Linked DNA regions of Homo sapiens: region 1 is linked to region 2. Evidence: fine-mapped expression QTL. A gene starts in region 2. The other region holds a variant in brackets. All regions are shown on one strand. Distances are between the middles of the regions. Region 1 holds the start of PRC1-AS1 (PRC1 antisense RNA 1). Region 2 holds the start of PRC1 (protein regulator of cytokinesis 1).

Evidence for each region.
Region 1: its variant is fine-mapped to the expression of PRC1 in thyroid (GTEx, PIP 0.96).

The regions. Positions count from the first base shown.
Region 1 is chr15:90,956,679-90,973,541 of GRCh38, forward strand. RCCD1 (RCC1 domain containing 1) reads left to right here. Exons shown (of 8, transcript NM_001017919.2): 2 at 1-222; 3 at 435-825; 4 at 926-1,047; 5 at 3,222-3,320; 6 at 3,650-3,820; 7 at 4,347-4,376; 8 at 4,940-6,447. The coding sequence starts at 57. The coding sequence ends at 5,091. It overlaps PRC1 (protein regulator of cytokinesis 1), which reads right to left. Exons shown (of 15, transcript NM_003981.4): 12 at 13,726-13,836; 13 at 12,769-12,945; 14 at 12,401-12,442; 15 at 9,362-10,524. The coding sequence ends at 10,453. PRC1-AS1 (PRC1 antisense RNA 1) reads left to right here and starts at 9,691. Exons shown (of 4, transcript NR_051984.1): 1 at 9,691-10,000. RefSeq lists silencers at 1-162, 283-332. The variant C/A (reference allele first, on the strand shown) is at 9,307.
Region 2 is chr15:90,985,870-90,999,104 of GRCh38, forward strand. PRC1 (protein regulator of cytokinesis 1) reads right to left here and starts at 8,666. Exons shown (of 15, transcript NM_003981.4): 1 at 8,538-8,666. The coding sequence starts at 8,548. It overlaps LOC124903556 (a long non-coding RNA gene), which reads left to right and starts at 8,910. Exons shown (of 2, transcript XR_007064759.1): 1 at 8,910-9,066; 2 at 11,474-11,756. It overlaps VPS33B (VPS33B late endosome and lysosome associated), which reads right to left. Exons shown (of 23, transcript NM_018668.5): 23 at 12,804-13,185. The coding sequence ends at 13,106. PRC1-AS1 (PRC1 antisense RNA 1) reads left to right here. Exons shown (of 4, transcript NR_051984.1): 4 at 1,761-2,755. RefSeq lists enhancers at 7,972-8,839, 8,840-9,706 and a silencer at 8,203-8,422.

The DNA of each region.
Region 1 (16,863 bases), 27 kb before region 2:
AATCCCCCCGGGCCCGCCGCAGCCAGGCGGCGGCCGGCAGAGGGCGCTGCTCGGGCATGGCGGAGGAGCGGCCGGGGGCCTGGTTCGGCTTCGGTTTCTGCGGCTTCGGGCAGGAGCTGGGCTCCGGACGCGGGCGCCAGGTGCACAGCCCCAGTCCGCTGCGGGCGGGCGTCGACATCTGCCGCGTGAGCGCGAGCTGGAGCTACACCGCTTTCGTGACCCGTGAGCACTCCCCGCCCCGTCCCCACTTATTCCAGCCGCGCTCCCCAGTCGCCTCCCCGCACCGCTGTGGCCAGTCCAGTTTGTCTCCCCCGTTCAGGCCGCCAGCCCCACATTCTGGGTTGGTCCCCAATTCGACCCCTTCCCAGGAACACCCCGCTCCCCCCATCCCCGCCGCCTCCATTCTGGCCACCCTGCTCCAATCCGCCCCGCAGGTGGAGGCCGCTTGGAGCTGTCGGGCTCAGCCAGCGGCGCGGCGGGCCGCTGCAAGGACGCGTGGGCCTCGGAGGGGCTCCTCGCGGTGCTGCGCGCCGGGCCGGGGCCGGAGGCGTTACTGCAGGTCTGGGCGGCCGAATCGGCGCTGCGTGGGGAGCCATTGTGGGCCCAGAATGTGGTGCCCGAGGCCGAAGGGGAAGACGATCCGGCCGGTGAGGCCCAGGCTGGGAGGCTACCCCTGCTGCCCTGCGCCCGTGCCTACGTGAGCCCGCGGGCGCCCTTCTACCGGCCTCTGGCTCCGGAGCTGCGGGCACGCCAGCTGGAGCTGGGCGCCGAGCACGCGTTGCTGCTGGACGCTGCTGGCCAGGTGTTCTCCTGGGGCGGGGGCAGGTGAGCGGAGGCGGGGGCAGGTGAGGGCTGCTGATTGGAGAAGCAAGCGGAGCGGGACCCCTTAATGCGACTGTAGCTGACGACGGTCTCCCTTGCTCAGGCATGGACAGCTGGGCCATGGGACCCTGGAGGCAGAGCTGGAGCCACGGCTGTTGGAGGCGTTGCAGGGCCTAGTCATGGCTGAGGTGGCCGCGGGGGGCTGGCATTCTGTGTGTGTGAGTGGTGAGTGACTTAGTGCTTCTCCAGACGAGCTCATGATCTTGTGCAAACCTTCCTCCTCGTTTTCCAGTTTGGGTGGGGGCCTACCCAGGCCTCCTTCCAAATTCATCCATCCATCGCCCAGTCAGTTATGACTCCTAAATGCCTCTCACCCTCGGCCTCCTCTGCCTGCACCATGGCCCACTCACGCCTGGACTCTGGCATTTGTTCCTAGCTTCTCTGTTACTGGTCTCACTGCCCCTCCCCTCCTCTCCCCACCTGCTCCCAGCCAGGACTGTCTCTTAACAGTGCTGCCGAGGGAGTATGGAGTGTGAGGGGGCAGCTGAGCCAAGGAAAACGCAGAAACGCTGCAGTTGCCTAGGGGGCCATGATGTGTGGCACAGGGTGGACACTGGGGTGCCCACCAGGCACCAGGATGGTGATGAGTGTGTCCCTGTGGTGGTGCCACAGCTGGCCAGAGTGAGGAGTTTCACTTGGTGATCCAGGTGTAGCTCCTTCCTAGGCTGTTAGAGCCCATGCAGAGAGGGTGAGGCTGGGAACAGATGATCTTTGTCTGTGTCTGGGGCTCTCATTCTGGCTGCTACGTAGATCACCTGGAAGCTTAAAAAATTACCAATGCCAGGGGGCCGGGCGTAGTGGCTCATGCCTGTAATCCCAGCACTTTGGGAGGCCGAGGTGAGTGGATCACGAGGTCAGGAGTTCGAGATCAGCCTGACCAACATGGTGAAACCCCGTCTCTAAAAAAAAATACAAAAATTAGCTGGGTGCAGTGGTGTGCGCCTGTAGTCCTGGCTACTCGGGAGGCTGAGGCAGGAGAATCGTTTGAACCTGAGAAGCAGAGGTTGCAGTGAGCCGAGATCGTGCCACTGCACTCCAGCCTGGGCGACAGAGCGAGACTCAGTCTCAAAAAAAAAAAAAAAAAAAAAAGAAAAGCTACCAGTGCCTTCCTCCACACCATATTCTCATGGAATGGGCCTGGGCTGGTTGCCAAGCTCAGGAAACCCTGGGCTGAGCCTCGCCAACGTGGCAAAACCTCGTCTTTGTACAAAAAATATAAAAATGAGCTGGGCGTGGCGGCTCGTGCCTGTGGTCCCAGCTACTCGGGAGGCTGAGGCTGGAGGATCACTTGAGCCACGCGTGAGTGGAGGTTGCAGTGAGCCAAGATCACACCACTGCACTCCAGTCTGAGTGACAGAGTGAGACTCTGTCTGTCTAAAAAAAAAAAAAAAACAAAAAAAAAAAACCCCAACCTTGGGCTGGAGAGACCAGAGGGCTGGAAACAGCCCAGTGGGACGCCCTGCACTCAAGGTCCAGAAGGAGTTTGAGGCCTTAAGTTTAGTGTAGAGGCTGAAGCACGGACACATCCCACCAGACTTCCTAGTTTCAGATCATTGCTCGGGCCCTGGGACCTCGGGCCTGGTACTTAACCCCCTCTGTGCCTCAGTTGTGAATAAAATAGGGATCCTGCGTAAATGGTGATATTGTCATAAAACCACCTGTAGGGCTATTGTGAGAATTAAGTGATTATATTTGAAAAGCATGTGAAACATCAGCATGGATTAAGCACTTCATAAAGCAGCTATTGTTAGAAATTTTTAGAATTAGGCAGCTGTTCCAACCAAAAAGCTCCAGTGTTGTGGGAGGCCAGGAAGGGGAGAGCTGCACGTGGCTTTCATCAGGACCGGCTGTGGGTGCAGTTGAAAAAGGGGCACAGGCCGGCCCAGTGGTTGTTTTATTTACTTATTTAGAGACAGGGATTTTGCCATATTGCTGAGGCTAGTCTCGAACTTTTGAGCTCAAGTGATCTACCCATCTCAGCCTCCCAAAGTGCTGGGTTACAGGCATGAACCAATGCACCTGGCCCTGGCCCAGTGGTTTTGAAAGGGAGACCACTGCGGTACTTCTAGGGATACATTTCTGAAATGAGGGGCTATTTGGCAGCATAAGAATGGAAGTAGAAGGTCCAGTAAGGGACTTAAAGGGTGATCTGAAGGCATTGAGGGGATGTGAACCTAAGACAAGCCCCTGGGGCCCGAGGGGAAGCGCCTTGGCCTGGAGTGCTACCTTGGGCAGGGCAGGCTTTAGTTGTCCCCAGGAGCGGATGCGATGGGGAGGAGAGTTTGGATGGATGCAGGGGCTTCACAGTCTGTTTCATGTGTCCCCTTGATCTCTTTCAGAGACTGGGGATATTTATATCTGGGGCTGGAATGAATCAGGGCAGCTGGCCCTGCCCACCAGGAACCTGGCAGAGGATGGAGAGACTGTCGCAAGGGAAGGTGAGGGTCATCTCGGCTCCCACAGCCGTCTCCCCAGGATGTGGCTGTCATTCCTAACTCCTGGCTGTATGCTGGCCTCAGAGCTACACTGCTCAGATGGAGCATGTGAGCCCCTTATGGGAGGGAGCATTGGCAAGGCTGATGCCGGTCTTGGCACAACACACTTGTGCAGCAGTGCCAGCCCTGCCTGCAGAATGTAGGGGTTGGGAGCACCAGCTTTGGAGCTAGGCAGTCGTGTACCTCAGAGCTGTTGTGGCAATAAGTGACTGCATGAATAAGATTTAGCTCAGGGCTCAGTTGGTGTTCACATCATTATTATCATTCTGAAGCCACAGAACTGAATGAAGATGGTTCTCAGGTGAAGAGAACGGGTGGGGCTGAGGATGGAGCCCCTGCCCCCTTCATAGCTGTCCAGCCCTTCCCGGCATTACTGGATCTCCCCATGGGCTCAGATGCAGTCAAGGCCAGCTGTGGATCCCGGCACACAGCTGTGGTGACACGTGAGTGGGGCTGGGAGGCACTCTGCTCCACTCGAGCTGGTGCCTACGGAAGGGGGTGTGGTCGACGGAAAAACTTCTGTCTTAAGGCTTCTGTGGCTCATACAGAGCAGCTACCTTGCTCAGTGGATAAGCCCCAACCCCCTTGTTGTTTCACAGTAGTTCCCCAGCCTGTCAGGCCCAGAAGTTTCTTCCTTCTGGTGGGAGGCTGATGCTTTCTGTCCTCCCTGCACGGCCACAGACACATTCCCTGCCCGCCGCCGCCTCTGACAGCAGGGACTGTCCAGTCTGGCATGGAAGACTGCGGCGCTCGGTAGCATGGCACACAGGAAGATCCGCCACTTTTTCCCTCGGGATCCTCTGCCATGCCACGTGTGATCAGCCAGTTGTTAAGAGAATATGTTGTTCCATGCCAGGCAGATCTCATGAGGATTGTAATATGCTAGCTGTGGGCTGTGCCAAGCTGGGCTGGACAGATGCCTTGCCAAAGAACCGTAGTGACAACTATCGATTGTCCTTTTGCTTTCAGGAACAGGGGAGCTCTACACCTGGGGCTGGGGTAAGTAAAAGGATTGTTTTTGTGACCCTGAAACCAAGGAGAAGAAAGACCTGGGAGTACAGGGCAGGTGACAAAGCCAACAAGACTGGAGGAAGCAGGGGCCTCGGCCAGGTCACTGGGAGGAACAGGACTGCTCCCTCCCTGGGGTTGGAACAGACATAGGCGCGCTCAGTCCGAGGCCAGACAGGGGAGACATGGAGAGGATATCGGTACCACCCGCCTACCTCTCTGAAAGACTGTCTTAAGGGAGTATCCAACCAGCACTTACAAAGCAGCTTTTTGTGGATGTGACACTGGGTGGAGAAAAAGATTCGATGGAAGTGTGTGCTCTGAACATCTTAGCTTGGATAGCAGGGAAGTCTGGAGGAGCGTCTTGCCTGGAGTGGCTGGTCGCCACTAGCCTCTTGGGGATCCCCAAGGTTGCCTGGCTCTGGGTCTCTTGGATTCACAGAGCAGTGGGGCATAATCCCAGCACTTCATTTGATAGTCTGGGCCCCTTCCTGGAGGGAAAGCAGCAGCAAGACCCAGTGGAGACGATGGCAAAGGGGCTGATTTCACTTTAGGTAAATATGGACAGCTGGGCCACGAGGACACCACCAGCTTGGATCGGCCTCGCCGTGTGGAATACTTTGTAGATAAGCAACTCCAAGTAAAGGCTGTCACCTGTGGGCCGTGGAACACCTACGTGTATGCTGTGGAGAAAGGGAAGAGCTGACATGTGTACGTATATGTATATGCAACACCTGTGAGACCCCCATTCAGGTCAAGGAAAACCATTGCCTGCACCCCAAGGGCCCCATATTTGCCCCTCCCCATCACAGTCCTGCCCTTCACCCTCAAGCACGGTCCTAAACTTGTCTGCACTTTAGAAACACCTGGAGAGCATTGAAAACTCTGCTGCCTAAGGTCAGCATCAATCAAAACAATGAAATCAATGAAACAATGAAACCAGAGCTTCTAGGTGTGTGGCCTGGATAGTGGTAGATTCAAAGCTCCACCCACCTCATCCCAGGTACATTTGATGTGCAGCTGAGATTGGGGCACATTCCAGGTCATCGTCTTCTGTCAGTCATTTCCCTGCTTTCGTTTGAATTTTACCATTCTTGTATGCAGCCTTATACGACATAGTTGTGTTTGCTTTTGAGTGTTAGATAAATGGAATCCTGTGTATGTGCTTTTGTGTCGTTTTTGTCACTCAGCATTGTATAATCCATCCTTGTTGGGTCCTGGAGTTCATTTTTAATGCTATATGGTGTTCTGTTGTATGAATAATACCTCAAGTGATACAGCCTTGTTGATGGTCATTTTTATTGTTTCTGATTTTGGTCATTCCACATAATTCTTTGTGCAGTCTTCTGCACATGTGCACAAGTTCCTTTGCAGAACATTGAGTTGAATTGCTAAGTCAGGAGATACCTTTAATTTTACTAGATAACTGTTGCCCCCAGCAGGGTGGGGTCTACTGTGGCTAAAATGTCAGGTAGATGCACACTGGTTTTAATTGGCATTTCCCTGGATACTGATGAGGTTGAGTAGCTTTTCATTTGTTTTGGATGGCTGGGCATGGTGGCTCACACCTGTAGTCCCAGCACTTTGGGAGGCTAAGCAGGGAGATTGCTTGAGGCGAAGAGTTCATATGTTTATTGGCCACTTGGAGTTTTTCTGTTGTCAAGTGCCTGTTCAAGTTTTCTGGCCTTTTAAAATGTTCTGTATTTTCCTTAGTGATTTTTCTTTTGGATATTTCAGATACAAGTCTTTTGAGAGTTAGTATTCAGAGTATCTTCTGCTACAATGTAGTTTGTTTCAGTCTCTCTTGGTATTACCAATTTTAATACTTAGGTGATGCTTACTCCATGCCAGGTAAGGCTCAAAGTGCTTTACAAGTATCAACTTATTTTGATAAAATAAGCTTATCAGTAGTTTTCTTTATAGTTAAATTCTATTTGTGCATGTGTGTGTCTGTGGTTTAGCAAATGTTTCCCACCCATGGGGTCTTTTTTATTGTGGTAAAATATACTGAACATAAAATTTATGTTCAATAAAAAACAAAAATTGTTTTTAACCATTTTAAGTACATAGTTCAGTGACATTATATGCATTCACTGTTGTGCAACCGTCACCCCTATGCATTTCCAGAACTTTTTCATCATTCTATGCTGAAACTCTGTGCATTAAACACTTAACTCGTCAGTCTCCCCTTCCCCAGCCCCAGGCAACCACAGTCCTAACCTTCTGTTCCTATGATACTGTAAGTGCCTCATGTAAGTGAAATCCCATAGTATTTGTCTTTTTATGACTGGCTTATCTCACTTAGCAGCATGTCCTCCAAGTTCATCCATGATGTAGCTTATGTATCTAGACTTCCTGCCTTTTAAAGGCTAAGATTCTGTTGTATGTATACACTGCGTTTTATTCATCCGTGCATTGGTGGATATCTGAGTTGTTCACTACAGTCAATAATGTTGCTGGGAACATGGGTGTACAACTCTCTTGAGTCTCTGCTTTCAGTTCTTTTGGATATATACCCAGAGTGGAATTGCTGGATTGTGTGGTAATTCTAAATTTTTTTGAGGAACTGCCCTGTTTCCCACAGAGGCTGCATCATTTTACATCCCCACTGGAAGTGCACACAAATCCTAATTTCTCCACATCCGCGTCCACACTTGTTTTCTATTTCTGGTTAACAGCCATCCTAATGGGTGTGAAGTGGTATTTCATTGTGGGTTTTTTTTTTTTTTTTTGGACAGGGTCTCTCTGTTGTCCAGGCTGGAGTACAGCCTCCACCTTCTGGGCTTAAGCCATCCTCCCGGGTAGCTGGGGCTACAGGCACGTGCCACCACATCTGGCTAGTTTTTTGTATTTTTAGTAGAGATGGGGTTGTTGCATATTGCCCAGGCTGGTCTCAAACTGCTGGGCTGAAGCGATCCACTTGCCTTAGCCTCCCAAAGTACTAGGATTATAGGCATGAGCCATCATGCCTGGCCAAGCCATTTTTTAAAATGGACAAAAGTCAACAAAGACGACAGAAGGATAGCAAGTGAGCATATGAGAAGATGCTCTACATCATTAGTCATTAGGGAGTTGTAAATGAAAACCATAGTGAGACACCACTCCATACACAGAATAACTAGAATTACATAAAGGCTGAACATACCAACTGTTGGTGAAGATGTGGAGAAACTGGAACCTTCATACATTACTGGTAGGAATGTAAAATGGTACAACTGCTTTGGAAAACAGTTTGGCATTTCTTCTTTTTTAAGATGGAGTCTTGCTCTGTTGCCCAGGCTAGAGTGCAGTGGTGCAATCTCAGCTCACTGCCACTTCCGCCTCCTGAGTTCAAGGAATTCTCCTTCCTCAGCCTCCTGAATAGCTGAGATTACAGGTGTGTGCCACCACAGCCAGCTAATTTTTGTATTTTTAGTAGAGATGGGGTTTCACCATGTTGGCCAGGCTGGTCTCGAACTCCTGACCTCGTGATCTGCCCACCTTAGCCTCCCAAAGTGCTGGGATTACAGGCGTGAGCCACCATGCCCGGCCCAGTTTGGCATTTCTTAAAAAGTTAAGTGTACACATACCATAGATGTGATCCAGCCATTTCACTCCTAGGTATTTATCCAGAAAAAAAAATATATCCATACAAAGACTTGTACATGAATGTTTATAACAGCCTTGTTTTTAATAGCCAAAAACTGGAGAAAAGCCAAATGTGAAAAATAAACCTAACAGGCGAATAAACTGGTATATCAACACCATGGAATACTAAGCAAAAAAAAAAAAAAAAAAAAAAAAAAAAAAAAAAAAGAATTATGGATATAAGCAACAATATGGGTAAATCTGAAAGTAGTGAAAGAACCAGACCAAAAAAATATATACTGTATGATTCTACTTACATCGAACTGTAGAAAACGCAAACTAATCTGTAGTAACAAATCGGTGGGCCAGGTACAGTGGCTCATGCCTGTAGTCCTAGCACTTTGGGAGGCCGAGGTGGGCGGATCATGAGGTCAGGAGATCGAGACCATCCTAGCTAATACAGTGAAACCCTGTCTGTCTGTACCAAAAATACAAAAATTTACCAGGCGTGATGGCACGTGCCTGCAGTCCCAGCTACGCGGGAGGCTGAGGCAGGAGAATCCCTTGAACCTGGGAGGCAGAGATTGCAGTGAGCTGAGATTGTGCCACTGCACTCCAGCCTGGCAAGAGCGAGACTCCATCTCAAAAAAAAAAAAAAAAAAAAAAAAAAAAATCAGTGGTTGCTCGGCAGGGTGAGGCTGGGAAGGAGGAGTGAGAAAGGGGTGGGAAGAACTGCTGGGGTAGAGAGACTTGGTTAACTGGACTGTGGCGATGGTTTTTCTCTTACGCTTCACATGTGTGCAGTTTATGTCCATCCTCCTTCAGTAACGCTGTTGAAGTTGGGCAGCCTCCCCATATTGAGACAAACGGCATTGAAGCCAGAAGCATCCTAGGACTCCCTTTGCTCTCTACACATCAGGGGTTAGGTTTTATATTTCTCACCAAAAAATTAGAGTAAGAGATATTCTTAATTTAGAAATGTACCAGAGAATATTTTAAAAATCACACTCGGCCGGGTGCTGTGGCTCATGCCTGTCATCCCAGCACTTTGGGAGGCAGGCAGATCATCTGAGGTCAGGAGTTCAAGACCAGCCTGGCCAACATGGTGAAAGCCTGTCTCTACTAAAAATACAAAAATTAGCCAGGTGTGATGGTGCGTGCCTGTAATCCCAGCAAATCGGGAGGCTGAGGCAGGAGAATCGCTTGAACCTGGGAGGTGGAAGTTGCACTGAACCAAGATAGTGCCACTGTACTCCAGCCTGGGCGACAGAGTGAGACTCAAAAAAAAAAATCACACTCCTGACTAAAAATTTCCAGGAGGTCCTTTTAGTTTTTTGTGTTTGTTTTTCACACA[C/A]AGACCAACCAACTAAAAAGTGACTGGGGAAAAAAAGGAAACACCACACTATATCTTTTTGAAATGTAAGTATACAGATTTTAATTTATTTTTAAGAATAATTGTATATTTTAAAAACAGGACACGTACTGTATGAGTAAACAGCGTGGCTAACACCAAGTCCACACTGGTAAGCTTTTGAGAACCATTTACACTATGTTGACAGTAGTACTGCTGCAGGCAGACAGCGGAAGAATAAATAATAGTGCTTCAAGAAGAGTAGTGATTGAGAGGATAGGTAAAGAGGGCGCCTCATCGTGGAAGCTAGAGCAGGAACACCTCCCCAGTAGTGACATGTGCAAAGTTCCAGATCTCCACGACAAAGACAGCTCAACCCATTGGAACAAACAGACTCCCAATGTGGCTGGCAACTGCGGGGGTAGAAGAACTCAGGCAAAGTAGGCACAGGAATGGGGGAGATGAGAGCCAAGGGACAAACGCCGAGAAAGCGTTCCGACAAGCATGTGTGTTCATACATGCATACCCCCAACAAAGGGCAATGCACTGTGTAACAGAACTGAACACAATTTAACAAAGCTGCTCCCAGCCTTCCTGTCACCTCTTTGGCAGTAGGGCAGGCCATCTCAACTTCGGACACACAAAGACATTCTCTTCAGGAGGAAGGCTGTCCTGTGTGGTGGGGACAAGGCTTCAGGTAAGAGCAAAGCTATGATAGCTACAGCATTAATTGAACATGCCTAAACAAAAAAGATGTTAATTACTAGTTACAGGTATACATGCCAAAATTACCCCCAGGGATGGGCATAGTCAATCATTTTCCTACAGTGGTGAAATAAAACAAGCTTTGATCATGCTTCAGCAAGTAGAATTATGTGGTAGAGAAGTCAGGCCCCATATGCTAAAATTTGCACTTCTTGCCATAAACTTTTCATGTATATAAGTCAAAACCAAGTCTCCTAGGACCACTAAACCTATGATGGGCTTTCAACTGTAACACTCATTCACATCTTTAAGTTAGGCCCATGGTCATGGAACCTGGCCAAGGTTTCAAGCACGCCTAAGCTGAAGAAAAACTAAAGTCACCCCCATATAATTAGGTCCAGTCTAGGCACAGGAAGCCACAGCTGGTTGACTGATCAGGGCTTCTCAGGACTGGATGTTGGTTGAATTGAGGATTCCAGAAGTAGCATCAGATTTGGAAGCCTTTGAAAGTTCTCGCTGTTGAAAAATAAATAACATCAGTGGCCATACTGCCTCTCTTACACATGGCCCACCCTTCTAAGTTTGGTTAAGTGTCAGCAAAAGGTCCCTTGAAGGTAGTTTCTCTGAGATCCCTAGCCTGCAATAGGCTGCGTTAGGAGTAAAAGGTGAGGAACTCTGAGCACCATTCTATTAGTCACAGACAGAGTGCATGTGCACGCATGCCCGTGACCCCTTTTTCCTCAGCCAGTCCATTCTGTTACACCTCACAGAAGAGAAATCCTTCATACAGTCATGCACTGCATAATGATGTTTCAGTTAACGACAGGCCACATACACTATGGTGGTCCCATAAGATTATACCATATTTTTACTGTACCTTTTCTATGTTTAGATACACAAATACTTACCATTGCGTTACAATTGCCTACAGTATCCCAGGAATAGCCTGAATCAAAAAAACCCACAATTGCCTACAGTATTCTTTCTGTAACATGCTGCCCAGGTTTGTAGCCTAGGAGGAAAACGCCATACCATATAGTTTAGGTGTGTAGGCTGTTCTGTCTAGGACTGTTAAGTACACTCTGATATGTGCACAATGAAATTGCCCCACATTCTCAGAACATATCCCTGTCATTAAGCGAGGCATGACTCTACTTCACAGAGCTACTTTAGAGTTGTCAAGGTAAGTAGGCAACAAGCTTTGGTCTCTTGAGCCCTTTATAAAACAATGGGCCAGAACATATATCTACCAATCCCTGGGGCTGAGGCCTTGTAACCTGCTGGTGATTTGATCTCATGCTGGAGCACATGGTAGAGCAGCAAAAGATAAAGCATGAATGGCTATTGAGAAAGACAGATATTAGCAGAGGTTAGTTTACCGGCTTTGGTGCTGCCTGGTGGAGTCTATCAGCCATAGCAACCCAAACCAGACGAACCTACCTAGGACTAGCCACACAGATAGGCAGGTACATTTAAGCCTCAGATAAAATGGGCCTTGGTTGAACAAGCGAAAAAGAGAAAGCTGGACCTCTGTCCAGCAATCAGCCAGAGTGACACACACCCACTTTTAAAGGTAGAAGCACCACCAGCCACGTAATTTGAAAAACATGCTGGAGTAGGAAGCCAGTTTCAGTGATCAAAACTAGCTGCAGCCTTGGCCAACTGTTCCATTCTCTATCCCTGCAGCAATTAAGAGGGGAGGCAGGCTAGGGGTTTAACTCAATATCCCCTCAAGGGTGAGGAACATCCTCTCCTCTTGCTAGTAAAATATTGAGAGAAGAAATCACAGATTAAGTAAAAGGCAGTGTAGTTAGGTGTTAGCAAATATAGAGTAGGATACTAGGAAGTGAAGAGCATTCTGGAAAAACTTGCTTCCAGTGCTTCATCTATGCTTCAGTAGCTCAATGTATGGAAAGAGGCAAAGGTGAGGAAATCAGCATTAGCTAGCTGAGAATAGAGCTGGCGGTTAAGCCCTGAGGGGTTAGGAAGGCATATACTCCAGGAAATAATCAGCACACAGGCCAAGAGCCTCATTGTAGGCAGCACACAGCTGGGGCTCCCTTCCCCATGTGATTGGGGGCCTCTATTCTTTCCAGCTATTGCAGGCCTTTGATGTCACAATTGGGGAGGGTCAAGGTTTTCTGTTAAACGTGATTTAAAACTGTGCCTGACTTTAGGGGCTGAGAATCCAATTCAAGTCTGAACAAATTTTATTAATTAATCTGTTGTGAATGTAAATCAGATGTGTTTTTTTGAGTCCATGATAGGAATTCCTGCTTCCTTTGTAACACTGCTGAGATTATTAGTTAGTGTAGCCCTGTGCCCAGATGAATGAAGCCAGCAGATGACAGATCAGTTTGGAAAAGGGACATGCAGGGATTGCCATACAGACCTGAAGCCCAACAGTGGAACTGTCAGAGAGGGACGGATCCTTCTAAGAACAAAGAATTAAGACAATTACCAAGAACTCCACCAAGAGAGCACCAGGACAGTGATAGAGGGGTTGCCTCCTGCAGCCAGGGAATGGTATGTATTAAGCAGAAGGATCCAGGTTAAATGTCTAGTTGCTGCTGCCAACTTCCTTCCTACACAACCCCCCCTTAAATCACACCCACCCTGCCATGGTCAAAGCAGGAAAGGGATTCTCAGCCTCCAAGGTAGCTGCCCTAGCTAATAGCCTGGGTGCCCCTGGGAAGATACCCACTCTGCCCCAACTGTGTGCTCCCCAGAGACTGGTAGATATTAGAAAAGGTGAATTACCGCAAACTCAGAATAGGTGCTGGCAACAGAATTAATGCTGAAGTTGCGCTGGAGGGGGGCCGAGCCAGGGTACCCACCACTCAGGATGCTGCCGTTGAGCTCCAGGTTCTCCTTGTTGGCTCCATGCCTGCCAGTACGGGGTGTTTTCTTCCCTGAACAGGTGGAAGCAGCGACTGGCTGCAGAGAAAGGAAAGAGATCCATGTATCATCCTTCTAATGAACGTGCACACGCACACACAATACCTGCACTGGTCAAAGGCTGAGACTATCTTTATATTCATGTCTATAATCCTATACTTTTTAGTTAAAAAAAAAACATATATATATATATATATATATATATATATATATATATGGGGCTGGGTGTGGCTCATGCCTATAATCCCAACACTTTGGGAGGCCAAGGCAGGAGGATTGCTTGAGGCGACATGTTCGAGACCAGCCTGGGCAACATAGCAAAACACTGTCTCTAGAAAAAAATTTTTTTTAAATATGAATTCTTGATTTACAGAACACCTATCTTGAGCATAGTCTAATAAAATATTTGAAAGACTGAATGTGTTTTGCCACATACTTTCCACATCTCTACTGAGTACCTGGCATGTCTAGTGATCTGGTTTCACTGGGCTAGAACCCACATGTAGGGGACCTATCTCCATACCAGCTGAGGACTGGGCTTGGAATTGAGTCTACAGCGACCCTGCCTGATCTTCAGTTTCCCAGACACATCCCAGTGCTTCCCATGGTACCAGTGGGGCTCAGAGTGACTGTTCTCTTTTTTTGCACGTTAGTTTTGGACCATTATTTAATGGTGAGCTAGCTTATATCTGTCAACTCTCAGCATCTCAATAAGAACCAAATCCAGGGATCTTAGAATCTAGAACAAGTAGGTGGGGCCTCTGGGTGAACAGGCTAGGGACGCATGTGAGGATGTGCTTAGACACAGGGCATACTAACCTTGCTGCCAGAAGGAGGAAGTCGAGACACGGGGGAGTGGTAGACTGTCCCTCCAAAGATAGGCCGAATGCTACTATTGGCCGTAGCATTGGACATGGTGGTAGTGTTCAGCTAGGGAGAAGAGCACGTGGGTAACTGATGTGCAGTAACATCCTCAGCATTTCTAGCAACCTGTCTACCCTACAGAGAAATGACTATGGGAGGAGGCAGTCTAGGGAAGACGGGTTTACATGGTGAAGGGCCTGCTGTGTCTAATACTGCATAGATTTGAAGTAACTTGTGAAAAATTTTCAAAGCCTATTGCTATCCAGCAAATGGAAGTGTACAATGGTACAACCACTGTGGCACAAGACATCTAGCATATGACCCAGCCATTCCACTCTTAGATGTTTCTACCCAAACGAAATGAAAGCATAGATCCATACAAAGACTTAGACGTAAATGTTCACAACAGCTCCCTGCAGCAGCCAAAAGCTGGCAACAGCCAAATACCCATCAGCAGGTAAGTGGACAAGCAAACTGTGGTAAATTCATACAGTGGAATGAATATTGATCTACAATAAAAAGGAGTGACCTTTTGATACATACAGCAACAGAGATGAATCTACACTAAATGAAAGAAGCCAGACAAAAAAGAATATGTACTGCGGGATTCTATGTAAAATGTTTCAAAATGAAAACTAATCTATAGTTAGTTAAAGACTAAATCCCTACTCGCCACAGCTAGAGGCTGGGGGCAAACTAGGAGCCAGGGAAGGAGGGAGGTAATACAAAGAGGCACTAGGAAACTTTGGGGACCATGAAATGTTCATTATCTAAATTATGGTGACAGTTTCATTGTATAAACCTACATATGTCAAAACTTATTATATGCTAATGATAAGAGCTGTAAATGTTTTTGAGATGGGGTCTCACTCTGTCACCCAGGCTGGAGTACAGTGGTACAATCTTGGTTCACTGCAGCCTCGACCTCCTGGGCTCAAGCAATCCTCCCACCCCAGCCTCCTGAGTAGCTGGGACCACAGGCGTGTGCCACCACAACCAGCTAATTTTTGTATTTGTAGTAGAGATGGGGCTTCAACATGTTTCCTAGTCTCCCAACTCCTGAGTTCAAGCAATCCCCCTACCTTGGCTTCCCGAAGTAGTGGGATTACAGGCTTGAGCCACTGTACCCAGCCAACACTTTTTTTTTTTTTTTTTAATTAAAAAAATTCTAGGGGGCCGGGCACGGTGGCTCATCTGAGGTCGGGAGTATGAGACCAGCCTGACCAACATGGAGAAACCCCGTCTCTACTAAAAATACAAAATTAGGTGTGGTAGCACATGCCTGTAATCCCAGCTACTCGGGAGGTGGAGGTTCACGCCTGTAATCCCAGCACTTTGGGAGGCTGGGGCGGGCAGATCTTCTGAGGTCAAGAGATTGAGACCATCCTGGCCAACAAAGTGAAACCCCATCTCTACTAAAAATACAAAAATTAGGTGGGCATAGTGGCGCGGGCCTGTAGTCCCAGCTACTCAGGAGGCTGAGGCACGAGAATCACTTGAACCCAGGAGGTGTAGGTTGCAGTGAGCTGAGATTGCGCCACTGCACTCCAGCCTGGGCAACAGAGCGAGACTCCGTCTCAAAAAAACAAAACCAAAAAAAACACATTTTAGGCCAGGCACAGTGGCTCATGCCTGTAATCCCAGCACTTTGGGAGGCTGAGGCAGGAGGATCACTTGAGCTCAGGAGTTTGAGACCAGCCTGGACAACTTAGTGAGACCTCATCTCTACTGAAACTCAAAAAAAAAAAAAAAAAAACACCACCAACAAAAAAAAAAACCCCAAAATTAGCCGGGTATGGTGGCATGTGCCCGTAAGTCTCAGCTACATGGGAGGCTGAGGTTAGAGAATCACTTGAGCCCAGGAGGCTGAGCTGCAGTGAGCCATGATGGCGCCACTGCACTCCGGTGTGGGTGATAGAGCAAGACACTGTCTAAAAATAATAAATTTAATGTTATAAAATAGCAGTAGAGAGAAGAAATAATACTCTTTTATTTATCAAAAAGAAAAAAGTAGGCCAGGCACAGTGGCTCACGCCTGTAATCCCAGCACTTTGGAAGTCAAGGTGGGTGGATCACCTGAGGTCAGGAATTCAAGACCCTAGCCAACATGGAGAAACCCTGTCTCTACTAAAAATACAATATTAGCCGGGTGTGGTGGCACATGCCTGTAATCCCAGCTACTTGGGAGGCTGAGGCAGGAGAATTGCTTGAAACCAGGAGGCAGAGGCTGTAGTGAGCTGAGATCACCCATTGCACTCCAGCCTAGGCAACAAGAGCGAAACTCCATCTCAAAAAAAAAAAAAGTCCTCTCTGACTGTGCTGTAGAGATGAAGAATTATTACATCTTCCATTTAGTAAGCGTGAACGTTGTTTTTCACATGGTACCACAAGGCCATCTCTTGGTCTTACAGGGAAAATGGCATTACAGGTTTTCAGGAAAACTGCTGAAGCTTTCTTTTCATCGTTACCAGAATGTTGGCAATCATTCCCCCACCGCACCCCGAATTTAATGCAAGGACGCAACAAGCACAGACACCAAAGCTGGCCACTCCGTGACTGTCACTATAGGCCGCTACTCAGCCTTCCATCCACTCAAGTGGACTCGACATGCAGGGACAGAAAAACCCTTTCCCATCTCTGCAGGACAGAGGGCAAGAGGTAGGGAAAAGAAAGATCAGAGTGTTACTGTGTCTATGTAGAAAAGGAAGACATAAACTCCATTTTGATCTGTACTAAGAAAAATTGTTTTGCCTTGAGATGCTGTTAATCTGCAACTTTAGCCCCAACCCTGTGCTCACAGAAACATGTGCTGTATGGAATCAAGGTTCAAGGGATCTAGGGCTGTGCAGCATGTGCCTTGTTAACAATATGTTTACAGGCAGTATGCTCGGTAAAAGTCATCTGCATTCTCCATTCTCGATTAACCAGGGGCACGATGCACTGCGGAAAGCCGCAGGGACCTCTGCCCAAGAAAGCCTGGGTATTGTCCAGGTATTTCCCCGCACTGAGACAGCCTGAGATATGGCCTCGTGGGAAGGGAAAGACCTGACCATCCCCCAGCCCGACACCCGTCGTCTGTGCTCAGGAGGATTC
Region 2 (13,235 bases):
TTGAGATGGGGTTTCACTACGTTGGCCACGCTGGTCTCGAACTCCTGACCTCAAGTGATCCACCTGCCTCGGCCTCCCAAATTGCTGGGATTACAGGCGTGAGCTACCATGCCTGGCCTATTCTTCTTAAATTACAACTAGCAGCTCAAAGAATGGCTAAAGTTAAAAAGACAGCATTAAGTGTTGGTGAGTATATAGAAAAGTGAGAACTTTCATATGCTGCTGGCATGGTGTAAATTGGTACAACTATTTTAAAAACTGTTGGCAGTCTATCTACTAAAGCTGAACCCAGCAGTTCTACCTCTACATACATACCTAGCAGAAATGAACACATACGTTCACCAAAGACATATATGAGAATGGTTAGAGAAGCACTACTCATAATAGCAGGGAAACAGAAACAGCCTAGATGTCTATCAACAGAATGAATAGTACATTCCTACAATGCACTAATGCAGCAATGAAAATGAACAAACTGGCTGGGTGCAGTGGCTCACACCTGTAATTCCAGGACTCTGGGAGGCCGAGGGGAGCAGATCACTTGAGGTCAGGAGACCAGCCTGGCCAACATGGGGAAACCCTGTCTCTACTAAAAACACAAAAAATTAGCTGGGTGTGGTGGTGCGCCTGTAATCCCAGCTACTGGGGCGGCTGAGGCAGGAGAATCGCTTGAACCCGGGAGGCAGGGTTTGCAGTGAGCCAAGGTTGCAGTGAGCCAAGATTGTACCACTGTACTCCAGCTTGGGCGACAGAGCGAAACTGTCAAAAAAGAAAATGAACACACTACACATGATATGGATAAAGCTCAAATTATTATATTTCTATTTTATTTATTTATTTATTTTACTTTTTTGGGGTGATGAAATAGTTCTAGATCTTGATGGCGATTATACAACAGTATACAATTGAAACTACCTGTAAAGCGAGTCTGTTTTACTGTGTATGAATTATACCTCAAATCTTTTCATTTTTTTAATGAAGTAAAATAAACAACTAAAAAATAGTTGTAAGGGGAAGAGGAAGGAAAAAAAAAACACTTTAGGCTGAGCAAATGCCACTAGATATGCAAATGTGTATCACTATGTGATTCCGTTGACAGAGAGTTCAAAAACAGGCAAAACTGGCCAGGCACGGTAGTTCACGCCTGTATTCCTAGCACCTTGCAAGGCCGAGGCAGGAAAACTGTTTGAGCCCAGGAGTTTCAGATCATTCTGGGCAACATAGTGAGACTCTGCGTCTTAAAAAAAAAAAAAAAAAAAAAATTAGCCGGGCACGGTGACGTATGCCTATAGTCCCAGCTACTCAGGAGGCTGAGGTGGGAGGATTGCTTGAGCCTGAGAGGATGAGGCTGCAGTGAGCTATGATCACTGCACTCCAAAGCAACACCCTATCTCAAAAACGAAAACAAAAAAAGCAAAAACAAAACCAGGCCAAACTAATCAATGCTTTCAGAAGTCAGGATAGTAGTTCTTTTGGCTCAGGGGAGGCAGTGACTGGTAGAGGGCTTCTGGGTTGCTGCTTACACAGGTGCATCAACTGTGAACAATTCACTGAGTTTACACTTGATTTCTGTACGTTTCTGAATGTATGTTATTCTTCAATTACCAAAAGCTTATTTTAACAAAAAATTATTTATCTAAAATACAAATTTAACTGGCTTCTGTATCTTATCTTTTAAGAACAGCTTACTTTAAAAATTATCACAATTAGTCTGCTTTACAGAACATTTAAAGAATAGAAATTTTTCTCCCTTTTCTTAGGTATAACAGGACAACTAAGACTGCCCTGGCACCAGAGAAACTACAATCTAGATGTGCTCTGCTTCCAGTCGGCCGAGAAGCCTGCAGCAAATCACCTAAACACTTAAGGTCTTTGTGTGCCATCCACACCCAACTGCAACTAGAGACTTTCATTAGCCCCTTTCTGTCTCAGAGCTTTCGGTGGTTCTACAAGTCACCAGCCTGGATCTCTAACAATGTGTCTCTCCAAAGCTGTTAATACATTCACATCCAAAATATCTCCAGCCACGAAATCCTAGTTTAGAGGTTGCCCGTCCTTGTTGAAGAAACATTTCTACACAAATACCTGTTGCCTATACCAGATGGCCATACCAATACCCAAATACTGACAAACGTTTAAAAGAATTTACGGTACTCCCTTCACTTTAGAAATGTTAACAGTTCAAGTCCAACAGAACTTAAAGGAAAAAAAGAGAAATGTTAACAGTAAGTAAGGCATTTATTTAACATAATCTCAACTAAAGTCCAACTAAAGAGCTTCCCCAGGCAAACACTCCTTTTGCACTTCATTTTGAAGACAAAAGAATGCACAAGTTAAAATCCTAATATTACCATTTTATTAAAAATAACTTTTAAGATCCAATCTGTGGCCAATATTCGATCTGGATGCAAAACCCTGGCTTCCAGACAGGCCAGCCAGGGGCACTGCTCTGAAGGTCATTACTTAAGTATCCCAGTCTCCTCAGTCTGACAGACCTACCCCTGCCCAGCCAATCTCCACATAACAGCTAGTTGTTCATAATAAATCCCATCAGATCCCCGCTTAACTACTCCCCTTCAAAGGCTCCACTGCCCTCAGGAAATAGTTCAACCACCTTCTGTAGAAAGGCCTTCTAAAACCTCTCTCCGAGTCTGTCTGCTAATCTCTCCCACTTGACACTCCCCAGGTCTCTGGCCAGCTGAACTTCCCGGGCATTTCCTGAACAATGCCCCTCAATAAACCACATGCAACTCTCATTTTCTGATGCCACCGCGCTTTGTACATTCAGTTCCGTCTATATGCCACCACCTCCTCTGGAGAGCTGTGGACTTGTCACTCACCATTCCCCCCAAGCCCCCTAGTAGACCATAAACTCAAGGGCAAGGACCACCACATCTTATTCATCTTCATTTTACCACACCCTAACTCACAGTAGTTGTTCAATAGATATAAAATGAATGGCCCTGAATTCCTCCCAAAGGGTCCTATGCTCCTAACCTACCTAACCTAATAGAGGTATTATGCACTCTGGATCCTGACGAAGGTTTACAAGCAGGGCTGCCTATCTCTGTAACACATCTAGAAGGTAAAGTGATCGTTTTTCTGAGTAAAAAAATCTAGCACAATGGGCAAAGAATCTGAATAGACATTTCTCCAAAGAAGATATAAAAATGGCCAATAAGCACATGAAAAGATGCTCAATATTAGTCATTAGGGAAATGCAAATCAAAACCACTTCATAGCCAACAGGATGGTATAATAAAAAAAAATATATAGCAAAAAGTATTGGTGAGAATCTAGAGGAACTAGAACCCTCAGACACTGCTTGTGGGCATGCAAGACGGTACAGCCTCTTTGGAAAATAGTCTGGTAGTTCCTCAATTGATTTTTTGTTTTTTGAGACAGGGCCTCACTGTCACCTGGGCTGGAGTGCAGTGGTGTGATCATAGCTCAACGCAGCCTCAACGCCCTGGGCTCAAGCAATTCTCCTACCTTAGTCTCCCAAGTAGCTGGGACCATAGACGTGCCATCGTGCTTGGCTAATTTTTTTTTTTTTTTTTTTTTTTAAGGTTTGCCATGTTGCTCAGGCTGGTCTTGAACTCCTGGGCCCAAGCAATCCTCCCACCTCGGCCTCCCAAAGTGTTGGGATAACAGACATGAGCCACTGCACCCGGCCCCTCAGTTTAACAGAGTTCATACAACTCAGCAATTTTATTACTGGGTATTTGCCCAAAAGAAATGAAAACACATTTATACAAAAACTACACAACTGTTTATAGCAGCATTACTTATAATAGCCAAAAAGTGAAAAAAAAAATACAAATGGCCATCAACTTATGAATGGGTAAATAAAATGTAGTATATAGGCATACAATGGAATATTATTTGGCAATAAACCTTGAAAACATTATGTTAAGTCAAAGAAGCAAGTCACAAAAGACCAGAGCTACGGTTCCGTTTTTATGAAATATCCAGAATAGGTAAAAAGTAGATTTGGGGTTTGTATGGTTTTTTGAGACAGGGTCTCCCTCTTTCACCTAGGCTGGAGTGCAGTAACATGATCATGGCTCACTGCAGCCCCAACTTCCTAGGCTCAGGTGATCCTCCCACCTGAGCCTCCGGAGTAGCTGGGACTACAGATGTGAGCCACCACACCCAGCTAACTTAAACAATAAAATTTTTTTTTAGGCCGGGTGCGGTGGATCACTCCTGTAATCCCAGCACTTTGGGTGCCAAGACCGGCGGATCACGAGGTCAGGAGTTTGAGACCAGCCTGGCCAATATGGTGAAACCCCGTCTCTACTAAAAATACAAAAATTAGCTGGGTGTGGTGGTGGGCACCTGTAATCTCAGCTACTCGGGAGGCTGAGGCAGGAGAATTGCTTGAATCCGGGAGGTGGAGGTTGCAGTGACCTGAGATCACGTCACTGCACTCCAGCCTGGGTGACAGAGTGAGACTCCATCTCAAAAAATAAAATAAAATAAAATAAAAAATAAAATAAATAAATAAATAAATAAATAATTTTTTTTTTTTTTTTAAGAGGTAGAGTCTCTCTATGTTGCCCAAGCTGTTCTTGAACTCCTGGGCTCAAGTAGTCCTCCCACCTTGGGCTCCCAAAGTGCTGGAATTATAGGTGTGCGCCACCTTGCCTAGCCGAAAAGTAGATTTGTAGTTGCGGCTGGGGAGAATTTGGACCATGGGGTGAAAGGGGATTGACTGCTAATGGGATTTTAAAGGGGTGATAAAAATGTTCTAAAATTGATTGCAGTGATGATTGCACAACTCTGAATATTCTAAAAATCACTGAATTATAATATACAATTTAAGTACATTGTATGGTATGTGGATTATACCTCAAAGCTGTTATTAAAAACATCTTGGCACATAATCTAAAACATTTTTGGTTTCTTTTTTTTTTCTTTTTTTGAGACAGAGTCTCAGTCTGGCACCCAGGCCGGAGTGCAATGGTGTGATCTCAGCTCACTGCAACCTCTGCCTTCTGGGATCAAGCGATTCTCCTGCCTCAGCCTCCTGAGTAGCTGGGACTACAGGCACACGGCACCACGCCCGGCTAATTTTTGTATTTTTAGTAGAGACGGGGTTTCACCATGTTGGTCAGGCTGGTCTCAAACTCCTGACCTCGTGATCCGACCGCCTCGGCCTCCCAAAGTGCTGGGATTACAGGCGTGAGCCACTGTGCCCGGCCCATAATCTGAAATGTTTTTGATTTGTGACTTAATTGAAAAACTTACAGATTTTTACTATGGCCGGGCGCGGTGGCTCGTGTGCAATCCCAGCACTTTGGGAGGCCAAGGCGGGCGGATCACCTGAGATCAGGAGCTCGAGACCAGCCTGGCCAACATGGTGAAACCCCATCTCTACTAGAAATACAAAAATTAGCTGGGCGTGGTAGTGGGTGCCTGTAATCCCAGATACTCAGGAGGCTGAGGCAGGAGAATCACTTGAACCCGGTGAACCCAGGAGGCGGAGGTTGCAGTGAGCTGAGATCATGCCATTGCACTCCAGCCTGGGCAACAGAGCAAGACTGTCTCCAAAAAAAAAAAGAAATAAAAATTTTACTAATATATAACGTATTTTATTTGGCCTGTTGGAAATGGGTGTTTGGAATTACCAAACACCCATTATTATTATTCTAGTTAGAGACACTTCCTGTAAGAGGATCATTTTCAAATTAAAAACTAACATTTCTCACTCTTCCTAACATTCAAATTGTACTGAACTTAATTTTTTTTTTAAACTTAAATCTTGTATCATCCTTGACACTTCTTTCTTATATGCCCGCCATTAGCATTATCTACACAAGACAGGCAGAATCTCACTCCTCCTGACCTCTGCTGCTACCACTACCACCCCCACCCTGGTCCAGGTCACCACCACCAACTTCTTGCTGTATGGCAGGGGCCTCTTAACTGGTCTCCCGGCTTCGAAGCTGGCCTCCTTAAGTCCATTGTCAACACAGGAGCCCCAAGTCCTAATCTTCTACTCAGAACCCTCCAACGACTTGCCATCTCACTCTAAGGAAAAGCCTCTGACTTTCCAAAGACCTATGGAGCCCCATTCCATCTGAAAGCCATTTCTTTTGACCTCAGTGCTCATTCTATTCCTGTCACAGCGACCTCCTTGCTCTTTCTGGAACATACCAGGCGCTATCTCCCCTTAGGGCACTTGGATTTGCTGATTCCTCTACCTAGATCTCTTTTCCCCCATGCTGCATGGCTTCACCCTTTTCCTTCTTAGGTCTTTGCTCAGAGATCACCTTCTCAGGGAGGCCTTTCCTGACCCATCTCTTTAAAACCACAACCCCCCTTCCTACACCTTCAGTACTTCTTAACCTCTTGATTTCTCTACATAGCACTTACCACCATTTAAGACTAACTTATTTATTACACTCCTCTTTTGCTATTAGAATATAAACTCTGTGAGGGCAGGGATGTCACTTTTGCTCACTGCTATATCCCCAACACTTGCAATGGTTCCTTGTATATAACAAACATTCAAGAAGTATTTTTCTTTTCTTTTTTAGTATAAATTATTATTTTTTAAATAGAGACAGGGTCTTGCTATGTTGCCCAGGCTGGTCTTGAACTCCTGGGCTCAAGTCATCCTCCCACCTTGGCCTCCCAAAGTGCTGGGATTACAGGTGTGAGCCACTGTGCCAGGCCCAAGAAGTCTTTTTGAATGAATAACGTGACATTTCAAAAAAGTTGTATGATCTTAAGATGCTTCAGAGCAATCATTATGAACAATTATCATGATACACTTAAATACTCCCTGGCTAAATTGTTTCAGATAATCCCCTAAAAGCAGCAAGTCTGAGTTTTTTTTTTAGATTCACTGAAAAAAATCAAGAGTGCATACAAAGACTACCACTCAAGGACAAAAAGGTTGTAAAATGAGTCAGTTTTTCCAGTCTTGAACATAAATCACTGGACTGGAAGGTATCTCACAGTGGTCCTTAAATTATTTTCTACCTTCAGGCAGCCTTCACTGATCCACTGCCCTATTTTTTCTTAGCATTCCAGAGAAGGAGCTTTGTTGATCTCCAGTTCAACCTGTTTCGGGGATCGATAACCATAATTAATTCTGGCCAGAGTTTCGTTTGAGCCTCAGAGGTCAAAGCTGCAGTGAGCAATCTCGCCACTACACTCCAGCCTGGGCGACAGAGTGAGACCCCGTCTCAAAAAAAAAAAAAAAAAAAAAAAAAAAAAAGTTAATTATATCCATTAGCCTGGAACCAACATTAAAGGGTAAGTTTTCTCCTGCTTCATTCAATCCCTTGATAGAGGAGATGCCTACATAATTCATAAACTGTTAATGGACTTTTTTTTTTTTTTTTGAGACGTAGTCTCACTCTGTCGCCTAGGCTGGAGTGCAGTGTCGAGATGTCGGCTCATGCAACCTCTGCCTCCTAGGCTGAAGCGATTCTCCTGCCTCAGCCTCCTGAAAAGCTGGGGGTACAGGCGCGCCACCAGGGCCAGATAATTTTTGTATTTTTAGTTAAGACAAGGTTTTACCATGTTGGCACTCAATTCTCATTATTCTGAGGGCAAGCATTTTAAAAAGACTGATCAGAATTAGTGATCATGAAATGAAGAATCTTACAAAGCCTTAGAACAATCAGTTCCACCAAAAACTACACATTATTTAACGCTGTATCATCAGAAAACTGCATCCACAACTTTTAGAAAATAAAGTTAATATTTGGAAGTCACAAGGTTGGTAAGTGGCAGTGTCACCGTCTGGTCCCGATTTCAAGTCGGACAGTCCCTCCCCAACACCGCCTAGGAAGTTATTAAAACGACCGGAAAAGAATTCCATAATCCGTTTCTTAACTTGCAAAGAAACAAAGCTATCTTTCCAATTCAAACAAAACGTTAACACCGCTGGCCAGATATAAAGAAAAACAACGGGCCGGGCACGGTGGCTCACGCCTGTAATCCCAACACTTTGGGAGGCCGAGGTGGCAGGATTACTTGAAGCCAGGAGTTCGAGACCAGCCTGGCCAACATAGACCGCGTTTCCACAAAAATAAAAAAAAAGAATAAAACAAAGAAAAACAACGATAAATAAACTTAACAGCTTTAAAGAAAAGCCACGACCACAGAAGGTTTACAACGAGTCATCTGCGCCAAGCAGCGGCACCTGAGACGCTGCGGGCGGGGAGGGTGGGGTCCGAGCGCCAGCGCTGACCGCCTGGGTGGAGGCCGCCCCGGGCCCCGGGCCTCGACTACCCTGCCGCGTCCGGGCACCGGCGCTCGGCTCCCACCCGGGCGTCTGAGCCTGCGGGCACCTGCGGCCGCCGGCGGACAGCGCGTCAGGTCTCACCGCCGCGGCCCTCGCACTGGCTCGCCGCCTCCAGACCCTGCCCCTCAGCGCCCCCGGCCTCCCTCGGCGCCGACTGCCGTGACGATCTAGGCCCGGGACCCCGCACGGGTCCCGCACCCCTGAACAGGCCCCGCAGCCGAAACGAGCGTCGCTCCCTCCCGCGTCCCCTCGATTTCCCCGCAACCCGCACCTTCTCCTCATGGCGGACGCTCCAAGCAGCCGTGAGTCCAGGTCCAGACCTACTCCACACGGCCCCGAGAGCAACAACCACCCGCAAACACCGGCGATGTCACTCCGCGTAGCCGCTCCGCGAGCCGTTGAGCCCCGCAAAATTTCAAACCGCGCCACGGGGCGAAGCCTCGTCGCGATTGGCGTCGCGTCCCGTCGCTCCAAGAAAATCCCCGCCCCTCGGGCTGAAGTCGCGGGTGCGCAATCGGGGTGGGGACTCGCGAGCAGGGCCTGGGAAGCGCCGGAGTGGCGGCGGGGGATGACGTCACTGTCTGTGAGTGGCCGGGCGTGGCCTGCGCCTCCCGCTTCCCTGGCTTGGCGGCAGCCTCAAGGGACTCCTCTCCCAAGCCAGCTACCTCATCGGAGCGCCGCCCCGCCTCGCCCCGCGCAGTTTGGATTCGAAGTGCGCGGGCGGGGAGGGAGTTGAGAGCACCGCGGCTACCTGGCTTCCCTGAGTCCCGGCTGCCGGGAACGGGCGCGGGGGTGAATAGGTAAGTTAGCGCCTAGTTTCCCTCGCTCATCCAAGAAGCGAAGCTTGGAATCGATCTTTGGTGGGACTCTTCCCCAGATGTAAGAAGCCATACACTAAAGGGGAAGGGAAGGAACATTGAGTCCTGCTCATGGGCCTGGAACGTTTCAACGCCAGTTATCCCATTTAACCTCCACAATCGCCATTGCAGAGGAAACGCAAAAAGATTTGAATGATTTGCCTAAGTCACGTTATCAAATTAGATGAGTTTCTAAATCGTTACATGAAAAATTTAAAACTCAAAATAGACATTACTTTTGTAGCCTCCTTTCCTCGATGAACATGTTACATCCCTAAATGCTTATATATCACCGTTTTTTCCCAGTGATTCATGGTGGCATGGTGGCATGAATCCTGGTGTGTAGATATCTCGCCCATTCTGCTATTGATATTTAGATGATAATTTAAAAGATAAGGCTGGGCTGAATATCTTCATACATAAATCTTTGTGTATGTATGTATTTATAAATGCATCCTGCATTTTCGTACGGCTGATTCCTAGAGGTGTAATTACTGAATGCTCCCTTTATTAATTTGCCTTCTGCACAAAGCCTCACCGGAAAAGTACCCTCCTTTTGTTACCCTCAGCAGGGCTGAATTCTATTGTACTTCTAAACATCTTTGCTCATTTTGTAGGTAAAATAATAATACTGGCATTTCCTTGTTTGGCACTTGATTATAATTGAAATTGCACATTTTTCGTGTTTATTGGCCAACTGTAACTTAAGTGAATCCTCTTCATATGCCTTTTCCCTAAAGGTAAAGGATGCTTGTTTGCTTCACCTTCAGAACCATATTTTTCTTATTTTCAGAAAAACTTCATTAGTGCTTTCAATGTTCTTTTTACTTTTTTTAATTGAGACGGAGTCTCGCTCTGTCACCCAGGCTGTAGTGCAGTGGCCCAATCTCAGCTCACTGCAACCTCCGCTACCTGGGTTCAAGCAATTCTTGTGCCTCAGCTTCCCGAGTAGCTGGGACTACAGGCACGCACCACCATGCCTGGATACTTTTTTTTTTTGTATTTTTAATAGAGACGGGGTTTTGCCATGTTGGCCAGGCTGGTCTTGAACTCCTGACCTCAGGTGATCCGCCTGCCTCGGCCTCCCAAAGTGTTGGGATTACAGGCGTGAGCCAACGCGCCCGGCTTCCATGTTCTTTTTAACTTGTCAGCAGCATGCCAAACATTCACAGCACCAACACAGTGGGCGACAGGCACCACTTTTTCAATTTCCTTGCACTCTGTGATTAACATTGACACCACTAATAGAGTAGATGGTAGCACTACTTTTAAAATTTACTTGCATTCTTTGTTGATTAAATTAACAGGAGAGCTTTTCAGAAAGCTTCACAAATTTGTGATCTTCATACTTGTTCTTAGCACCAGCATTATGAAGTATCCAAAGAAAAGGCAATTTTTTCTCTCTTGTCCTTTACACTGAGGTGCTGAGGCTAACAAAGTCATAGAACTGATGCAAAGATATCCATTCAGAGCATAAACGCAGCATGTAAAACACTGTGTAATACGCGTTTATAATATATGACCTTAGCCTGGGCACTGTGGCAAAACCCTGTCTCTATAAAAAATACAAAAATTAGCCAGGTGTGGTGGTATGAGCCTGTAGTTCCAGCTACTTGGGAGGCTGAGGTGGGAGGATCACTTGAGCCCAGGAGGTCAAGGCTGCAGTGAGGCATGGTCACGCCACTGCACTCCAGCCTAGACGACAAAGCAAGACCCTTTCTCAAAAAAAAAAAAAAAAAAAAAAAAAAATCCTATTACAGGGTCATATATTTCTACTGGATGGAAGTGCAATGTTTTGCCACTGTTTAATCTTTTTCTGATGCCACCTATTCTTTCTGTGAATTAACAGCCCTGTTGGCAGTGTCTTTGGTCTTGCACACTAGCTTGACATAACACTCAAAATTCTAGCTAGATGCTTGAGGAATGCCTTTTCCTTGGAATATATTCTTATACAGAATTATCATTATTCTTATTTATTTATTTATTTTTTGAGACAGAGTCTTGCTCTGTTGCCCAGGCTGGAGTCCAGTGGCATGATCTCGGTTCACTGCAGCCTCTGCCTCCTGGGTTCAAGCGATTCTCCCACCTCAGCCTCATGAGTAGCTGGGACTACAGGTGCGCGCCTCCACAGCTGGCTAATTTTTATATTTTAGTAGAGACAGAGTTTCACCATGCTGGCCAAGCTGGTCTCAAACTCCTGACCTCAAGTGATTTGCCTGCCTCGGCCTCCCAAAGTGCTAGGATTACAGGTGTGAGCCACCGTGCGGGGCCCAGAATGATCATTATTCTATAGGAAGAATACTTTTGATGATCCAGTAACTCAGGTTTTGATTTTCTTTCTTCCTTTTAGTAAGTGGCAGCACTGTGGAATGGGGAACAGATGGAAGAATGAGCAGCTGGGAGGCACACTCTTGCAAAAACCCAGGCAAGAGACAATAAAGACCTCTGTCGTAGGGATGGTGAGGAGAAGATGAACTAGAGACATTTAGAAATAAGAACCAATAGCACAAGGGAACCAGCTGAAGGTGGGGCATAGAAAGAAAAAATCTGAGGTCAAGAATACAATTTTTTGCTCATTTGAACAAAGTTTGGGAATACAGGAAGAAGAGCAGATTAAAGGATTCAAGTAGGGACAGGAGCTTCCACTCATGAGTTTATTTTGTACATGCTGAGTTTGAAGTGCCTGTGGAATGACCAGGTAGGAAATACTTGTGTGGCGCTAAGGAGTGAGATGAAGGCTTGAGATCTGGAAGTGGATGACAACAAAGGACAGAGAGAGGGGAGATGTCAGCAAATGGGATGAGCAGAGAGGAGTAATCAAAGAACAACCTAAGAGACTGTGGGAGGACAAAGAAAGGGTATTATGGAAGCTGAATAAGACAATTTCAAGGAAAGCATAGTCATCAGTGAGATCAAGTTGGAAGAGGCCTGAAAAGAGGCCACTAATATAGGTGGTTGTAATTCCTTCTTTTTTTTTTTTTTTTTGAGACAAGGTCACAGCTTACTGCAGCCTCGACCTCCTGGGCTCAAAGGATCCTCCCACCTCAGCCTCCCCAGTAGCTAGGAATACAGGTGTGTGCCACCACCCTCGGCTAATTTTTTTATTTTTTGTAGAGACGGGGTCTTCCCATGTTATCCAGGCTGGTCTCAAACTCCGGGGTTCAAGCGTTCCTCTTGCCTCGGCCTCCAAAAGTGCAGTGATTACAGGCATGAGCCACAGCACCTGGCCTATATTTCATCATTTTTAAAAGGTAAAGAGAGAGAGAAAGGCTACTAGCATCAGTAATGAGGAGGGTGCTGGCACATTTATAGGAGCACTGTTTGCTGATGCCTGAAATGGCTCTAATGGCACACAATCTTTCATTCTGCAATAAGAAACAAACGCTTAAAATTGAAGTGCCTCCTTAAATTAAAACAACAAAGTCATTTTCTCAAAAATGTAATGAATCACAACATTTTAGAACTGGAAACGTGCTTGCTGGTCACCTCAGCCATCTCCCTCATTTTATGGTAGAGGAAACTCAGGTACAGAGTGGTAGAGTGATTTTTACAGGGAAGAACCAGACCAGGCCTGGAGCCACTACAAAGTCCAGGCCAAGAAGCACAGGAAGCCCCTGTAGCAAGCTCCAATGGGCTTTCACTAATAAAGATGGAAGTGCGTGTCCAGAACGACCAACGTATTACATCTGAGAGCAGAGGCTTTATTTACAATGACATTCAAACAGGATTTAGCAAAGGATGCCTCTTCCTGCTCGCATCTTAGCAGCATGGGTTGTACTTCATAAACAGAAAAGAGAAATATCCTGGGAGCAGGAAGTGAACTCTTTTCTCAGATAATGTTCTCTAAATCCCAACACGTTCCATGCTCCCGGCTCTTAGCAGGTAGTTGGTGGACACTTGGTTATAGCAGCTGGGTGCCAGATGCCTGCATCTCACTGAGGAATGTGTTCAGGGAAGATGTCAACACTGGCCGGGAAAAACATCAGGCTTTCACCTCACTCATGGCCTCCATAAGGCGAGCGCTGTTTGTGACTGCTGTCGTCAGGAAAATGAACCTGTAGCCTAAGGAGTCAAATGCAGCAGCAGAAGAGACAGCACAGATCTTAGGCCCC